Linked DNA regions of Homo sapiens. The protein of the gene in region 1 purifies or fractionates together with the protein of each later gene. This does not show direct contact. Each region holds a gene or a part of one and is shown in the gene's direction. Other genes may lie near its edges. The genes, in order: GNPAT and HEBP1.

Region 1 (3,818 bases):
GGAGTTCGAGACCAGCCTCAGTAACATAGTGAGACCCCATCTCCAAAAAAAAAAAAAAAAGGCCGGGCGTGGTGGCTCACACCTGTAATCCCAGCACTTTGGGAGGCTGAGGCGGGCGGATCACGAGGTCAGCAGTTCCAGACCAGCCTGACCAACATGGTGAAACTCCGTCTCTACTAAAAACACAAAAATTAGCCGGGCATGGTGGCGTGCACCTGTAATCCCAGCTACTCGGGAGGCTGAGGCAGGAAAATTGCTTGAACCTGGGAGGCAGAGATTGCAGTGAGCCAAGATTGCGCCACTGCACTCCAGCCTGGGTGATAGAGCGAGATTCCGTCTCAAAAAAAAAAAAAAATTGTACAGGCTACAGTTGGAAATGCGTTTTTTTTTAAAGACCAGATAATTATTTGAAGTCAAGTACCTACTGTTCTTTGATCAACCCAATACTGAATACCTCCTCTGTGCTGGGTACTACCAGGGATATGAAGATGAACAAGATGCCATCCCCATCCTGGACGTTCCCCTGGGTTGCAGAGGGCAGGGTGGGTGGGTAATGTGTAAACAAGTTGTGAGGGTTCAGTGAACAGAGACAAGGAGCAACATGCATGCTGCAGAGGGTTCCTGAGAGTGCTGCAGAGGAAAGGGACCATACTCAGGAAGACTTCACAGAAGCGACTTTTGAACCCTTCAGGAAGACCAGGAGAGGATCCTCGCCAAGGCAGGGATGAGGAATGCAAGATGGGAGGCTTGGGCCCCAGAGATTCATCAGTGATATTAAAGTGTTGGCCCAGATGGGGTGGTGGGTAGATGGAAAATAAAGATGGACCTCCCCGCCTCCTCCCCACCATCCACCATCAGAAGACTGGAGGTATAGAAACAAGTTAGGAGGCTGCTCTGTCCCAATGAGAAATGCAGGATGCCTGAGATGCCTGAGCCGCAGCAGTGGAGGCACTCAGGGCACAGCCAAGAGATGAGGAGGATTTACTGACAAAAATGCCAGTCACCAAGAGAGAGACAAATCAGACACCTGTTCTCAGTGCTGTGATGGGCTGGGTCTGGTAGGAGGCAAAGGATGTGTTAATTATGATACAAGTAGCAAGTGTTGGATGTCATGAGAAATAGCTAAAAGGGCTCAAACCCATCATTGTTTGGCCCAGGAACATATGAAAACATAGGTACTTGTTTTTCTAAAGTGTTTTGCTTTTTCAGGATGGGATAAATGCCATAACTAATCCATAACTAAGAGTATCTGTTCAGTGTCACTACAGTTCTGTTCCTTTTTTCTTTTTTTATGCAGATTACCCCACATTCCTAAGCATGTTCATATCTCAAGCTTTTTATGATCATTTCACATAAAATATTATTCAATTGAGCAAGCTGAGACAAGGCAAGTTGTTCAAGAATGAATGTGATCAAGTCCAGGAGGAAGCCATACCTCTCACTTGTCCCTGCCTTGAAGCAGTAGCAGAACTTGCCACCCAACTTGAGCAGTGTGCCACTGCCAGCCAGCTCTTTGGCTCAGGTTAACTGCAGAATAATTTTCCGTGCTGAGAATATTTGTTAAATATCACCATCTCTTCATTATGCTTCTGTAATTCTACCTGCCTGGCAGCTGTCTGCAGGCCAATATGTCAGGTGATAAGCTACCAACTGCCATGGAGCTGCCCCTTTAGTTATCTTTGATTTGGGGAAAACTGCAAAGTGATATTTTTACCATTTTAGTATGGGTCTAAGCAAGGGGTGTGTGTGCATGTGTGTGTGTGTTGTATGTTTTAATGTATTCATACACTAATCATGGGCCTTTTTCTTAGTATTCTTACATTCCCGTGCATGTGACTTTCCAGTTATGTAACTTGCTGTTAGAAAACTTTAGATTCCCTTGGTTCCTGAAGTACACAGAAGTGGTGTTCATTTTCAGAGTAGAAACTGATGTGCCTTTCAGAATGGCTGACAAATTTTGGGGGTAAGAAAGTATGTTACATGTCCTTAGAGAGAGAGAAAGAATTGATTTATGAAATAGTACTTTTAAATTTTTCTTCAGATTTGGTATCATTACCGTAATTGGTAGACAGTAAAACCTGTCACTTGAAAATGAGCATCTGTCACGTTACCATTAATAACGTTAACGTACGCTAGGCCTAAGACTCCCTGCAGTGACCCATCTTGTTTGAATGAATTGTCTTTGTGTGTAGATAATAAACCTGCTGAAGAAGTTGTCCCGGCCAGCATTCTTCTGCATTCCAACATTGCCAGCCTTGTCAAAGACCAGGTGATTCTGAAAGTGGACTCCGGAGACTCGGAAGTGGTCGATGGGCTTATGCTCCAGCACATCACTCTCCTCATGTGCTCAGCTTATAGGAACCAGCTGCTCAACATTTTTGTGCGCCCATCCTTAGTAGCAGTAGCATTGCAGATGACACCAGGGTTCAGGAAAGGTAATTTTCAGGAATGCAATCTTGACTTTTAGAAGAGGTCTGGCCATTCCATTCCATTTAGGGAGCCACATTTGAAGCCTTGTAATGTTCAGCCTCACGCCGGTGAAGAGCAGGCCTATCACTGAGAAAAAGTTAGCTTTGTTCCCCAAATACTTGTTCATCTGCTTCGAATTTTGGAATTGGGAGGACCTGGAAATAATCTAAACCTTTCCTTCTATAAATATGGAAAATGAGGCCTAGAAAGTTGCATAATTACTGAGAGAAGGATCTGGCATTTGAGTACAGTTCTCCACTTCCTGGTCTGCGGCACTGTTTTGGCTGTGCCAGCTCCCTGATCCAGCAAAGGCAGGTGGGCAGATGAGCAGTCAGCAGTCGATGAGTACTCCCGAGATGCATGGTCTTGTTCTAATTGTATCAGGAGTATAAAAATGAGTACAGTACACGTCATGTTCACAGGAGCCTGTAGTCAAGGCCAGGGGGTTCTGTCAAGGCCCTATGTTAGAATTACTAGGGGAGTGAGCCCCACCCCAAAGTTTCTTCAGTTGACCTGGGGTATGGGCCAGCCATTGGTGTTTGGTTTTGGTTTTGGTTTTGGCTTTTCAAAGCTCCACAGTGATTCTAAGGAAAAGTGCTACAGATATAATAAAGATACCAGGAAATATGAATATAGAGGGAAATTAAGAAATCAGTACCTTTCCTTCCCTACTAGGGAGCCATGGGGTAGGGAAAAATGAAGCGTCCTGGCCTCTAAGGACTGTGATGTCTCGCTGAGTAGAAGCCTGGTTGTAGGTTAGAGTCAATCATTTAAAAACTATGCTAGGGCCGGGCGCAGTGGCTCACGCCTGTAATCCCAGCACTTTGGTAGGCCGTGGTAGGAGGATCACGATGTCAGGAGTTCGAGTCCAGCCTGACCAACATGGTGAAACCCTGTCTCTATTAAAATACAAAAATTAGCTGGGCATGGCGGCGAGTGCCTGTAATCCCAGCTACTTGGGAGGCTGAGGCTGGAGAATCGCTTGACCCCAGGAGGCGGAGGTTGCAGTGAGCCAAGATTGCACCATTGCACTCCAGCCTGGGTGACAGAGCGAGACTCCATCTCAAAAAACAAAAAACAAACTATGCTAGACCGTAGTTTGCTCTGTGGGTAAGATTTGGGTTTAATTTAGCTTCCCTCAGGGGACTTAATTCTTGTCCCTGTTACATGAATAAAATATGCCTTTGAAATACATTTTGTGATAGTAAGGACTTCCTGGTACTCCCTTAAAGTTTAAAGGGCAATGTTGTAATTTTACATGATGCATTTATTTCCAGAGGATGTCTACAGTTGCTTTCGCTTCCTACGTGATGTTTTTGCAGATGAGTTCATCTTCCTTCCAGGAAACA
Region 2 (3,818 bases), on another chromosome or scaffold:
ACGTCCGGTTGGGTGATCTGTGACCACCTCAAAGTCAGCTTGACCTCCCCAAACATGTTATCACATACACCCATGCCCCATAAACTAACCTAAGTGGTCCTTTCCTGTGTTCCCATACTGCCCTGGCACTCCTTGCCCCCTAAAAATATCATTAGATGATAACATTCTGTTTTCCTGGCATCTTCCCTTATAGCACCTGTAACAATGTTCAGCACATGGTAGATACTCAGTAGTTGTTGGTTAAATGAATAAAAGAAGAAAAAGACCAAAGGAAAGAGCCAGTTAGCTCTTTCTCCAGTGAGATCTTGTTTTTGGTCTTCCCATTTGTAAAAGAAGTAACTGCGTAAAATGACTTCTGATACCTCTATTCTGAATTTGATATGGGCATACAACTGTCCGCCCAAAGTATCTAACACAGTGGCTAAAGAGAGAGGTTACAGACTGGGCAACATTGCAAGACCCCATCTGAAAGAGAGAGAGAGAGAGAGAGAGAGAGAGAGAGGAAAAGAAAAAAAAAAAAAGCAAAGACACTTTGGAAGGCTGACATAGGTGGATCGCATGAGCTCAGAAGTTTGAGACCAGCTTGGGCAACGTGGTGAAACCCTGTCTCTACAAAAGAAGACAGAGAAAACAAAATACAAAAAAAATTAGCTGGGCATGGTGGCACACACCTGTAGTCCCAGCTACTTAGGAGGATGAGGTGGGAGGATCACGTGAGCCCAGGAGGCTGAAGTTACAGTGAGCCAAGATTGTACCACTGCACTCCAGCTTGAGCAACCATGAGACCCTGTAAGAAAGAGAAAGAAAGAGAGAGAGAGAGAGGAAGGAAGGAAGGAAGGAAGGGAGGGAGGGAGGGAGGGAGGGGGAAACGAAAGAAAAAAAGAAAGACAGAGAGAGGAAAGAAAGGAGGATAAAGAAAAGAAACAGAGGTTTAAATGCTCACTTCACCCCCCATAGCTTTAGAGAACCTTGCAACGAGTATTAGACTGGAGTAGACTAGAGTTTGGGAACTGGAATTTTTGTTTCAGTTTCACCATTCAGTAGTTACATCACTTTGAGCAACTTAGTCTCTCTGGTTCTTCATTTTCTCCTTGATAAAATTAGTTAGATTAGGTAAACTTTAAAACCATTTTAGGTTCTGAACTTCTGTGATTCACAGGATAGTGTTTCTGGAATTTAAAACATTACAAGTGCCAAGGGTAGGTGCGCTCTCAAATGAAAGGGGAGTTCTGGAATTCTCTGCAGCAACAGAAAGAGCAAAACACCCTAAGTTTACTTAACAGTTTGCTACTGAAGGCTCTTTGGAAGTGTCAGATTCACCAGATGGAGGGCTTCACAGCAGCCTCAGAATGATTCAGCACGGTGCCCCACAGTCAAGGCTGACTTGCTGCCTCATGATTCCTGGTCTGGCGCAATTTCCTCTACCCCATGTGAAGGGGGATTTAAGTACAAACTTGGCACTCAGGGTTAAAATTACAATATTAAGGCCGGGCACAGTGGCTCATACCTGTAATCCCAGCACTTTGGGAGGCCGAGGTGGGCAGAACACCTGAGGTCAGGAGTTCGAGACCAGTCTGTCCAATGTGGCAAAACCCCATCTCTACTAAAAACACAAAAATTAGCTGGGAGTGGTGGCGTTCGCCTGTAGTCTCAGCTACTTGTGAGGCTGAGGCAGAAGAATCACTTGAACCTGGGGGGTGAAGGTTGCTCTTAGCAGAGATCACACCACTGCACTCCAGCCCGGGTGACAGAGCAAGACTCTGTCTCAAAAATAAAATAAATATTAAATATGCTCATTGAGACTACACTTGCCACTCACAGCCGTACAGTCCTGCCTTCCTCCAGAGACACCTTCTGTCCCCCTGGGAGTCACACCCTCTTCCCTAGTTGTGAATCTTCAGTCTAGGATATTATATGAAAACCTATTTGACCAGTCTAGGGCAGCCAGGTTCCCTACCATGTGTCTGTTTTTCATAATCATTGTTAGGAGACACAGCACCTTAATCAAATAAATATCTGTTGCACTTCTCACATGTAAAGCTCTGTGGTATAGTTTCTGCCCATAAAGGCTTTATTGCAGATTGTTAAAACTATAATAATGTTTCATTACCAGATGGTAAAATTAACATAGACCAACTTTCCTTCTTCTAATGGGATGGAATAAAATTCACTCCAGTAGAGTAGAAGAGAAGAAAACAGGATAGGGGAAGGAACAAAAAAAAAGCCAGGATGCATCTCATCCATAAGGGTAAAGCATTACTTTGTGAAACTTTAACTATGTGTATATTCATGATAAGACAGGCTGTAAAAAATGCTTTCCTTCTTGTGGATTGTGATTTTTTTTCAAAATGTGAAGAACACTGCCTTACAGTATGTCCAGGAATACAAAATTAAATTATATGAGCAATCACGTGGCAAGGAGCAGGAGATGTACTGAAGGAGAGCTGTGGGGGTCCATAATGAGTAAACACCAGGGAAAGGATAGTCCAAGGACAGGGCCTCAATGCAGAAAGTGGTGATGGGGAGATGAAAGAAGGATTTGTGTGAAAAGAGACAGTGGAGCTGAGCATTAAGCAGATTGGGAGGCTGTGATTTAGTGAGACAAGAGTTAGGGAGAGGATATGCTGTGTCTGGGAGCACGGTGTGAACAGAGCTACAGTCAGCCCTTCCTGTCTGTGGGTTCTGGATCCACGATTCAACCAACCACAGATGGAAAATATTCAAAAAATAATAATAGCAATACAGCAATAAAAAATACATAAATCAACAGCAGAGGCCAGGCGTGGTGTAACTGCCCAGTGGGTTCACCTTGCCTGCTGCCTAGATAGAACCAATTTATCAAGACAGGGGAATTGTAATGGAGAAAGAGTAATTCATGCAGAGCCAGCTCTGCGGGAGACCAGAGGTTTGTTATTACTCAAATCAGTCTCCCTGAGCATTCAGGGATGAGAGTTTTTAAAGATAATTTGGCAGGTAGTGGCTTGGGGAGTGGGGAGTGCTGATTGGTCAGGTTGGAGATGGAATCATGGGGGGTGCCAAGTTAGGTTTTTCTTGCTGTCTTCTGTTCCTCGGTGCAATGGCAGAACTGGTTGGGCCAGATTACTGGTCTGAGTGGTGTCAGCTGATCCATCGAGTACAGGGTCTGGAAAATATCTCACGCACTGATCTTAGGTTTTACAATAGTGATGTTATCCCCAGGAGCAATTTGAGGAGGTTCAGACTCTTGGAGCCAGAGGCTGCATGACCTCTAAATTGTAATTTCTAATCTTGTAGCTAATTTGTTAGTCCTGCAAAGTCAGACTGGACCCCAGGCAAGAAGGGGGTCTTATTGGGAAAGGGCTGTTACCAATTTTCTTTCAGAGTCAAGCCACGAACTGAATTCCTTCCTACAATTAGTTCGGCCTAAGCCCAGGAATCCCACAAGGACAGCTTAAGGGTTAGAAACAAGATAGAGTCAATGAAGTCTGATTTCTTTCACTGTCATAATTTCCTCAGTTATAATTTTTGCAAAGGCAGTTTCAATTGTGGCTCATGCCTATAATGCCAACACTGGGAAGCCAAGACAGGAGGATTGCTTGAGCCCAGGAGTTTGAGACCAGCCTGTACAACATAGGGAGACTCTACCAAAAAAAAAAAAAAATTTTTTTTTTTAATTAGCAGGGCATGGTGGTATGCACCTGCGGTCCCACTTACTCAGGAAGCCTAAGTAGGAGGATCGCTTGAGCTCAGGAGGTCGAGGCTAGTGAGCCATGATCATACCACTGCACACCAGCCTGGGTGACAGAGTGAAACACTGTCTCAAAAATAAATAAATAAAT

What was found.
Region 2: the proteins of GNPAT (region 1) and HEBP1 fractionate together in Homo sapiens (co-fractionation; one large-scale study listed by BioGRID). This does not show direct contact.

The regions. Positions count from the first base shown.
Region 1 is NC_000001.11:231,268,566-231,272,383, forward strand, and holds part of GNPAT (dihydroxyacetone phosphate acyltransferase), read left to right. Parts: intron 1-2,192; coding exon 2,193-2,435; intron 2,436-3,746; coding exon 3,747-3,818. UniProt on the Homo sapiens protein: Dihydroxyacetonephosphate acyltransferase catalyzing the first step in the biosynthesis of plasmalogens, a subset of phospholipids that differ from other glycerolipids by having an alkyl chain attached through a vinyl ether linkage at the sn-1 position of the glycerol backbone, and which unique physical properties have an impact on various aspects of cell signaling and membrane biology.
Region 2 is NC_000012.12:12,990,171-12,993,988, reverse strand, and holds part of HEBP1 (heme-binding protein 1), read left to right. Parts: intron 1-3,818.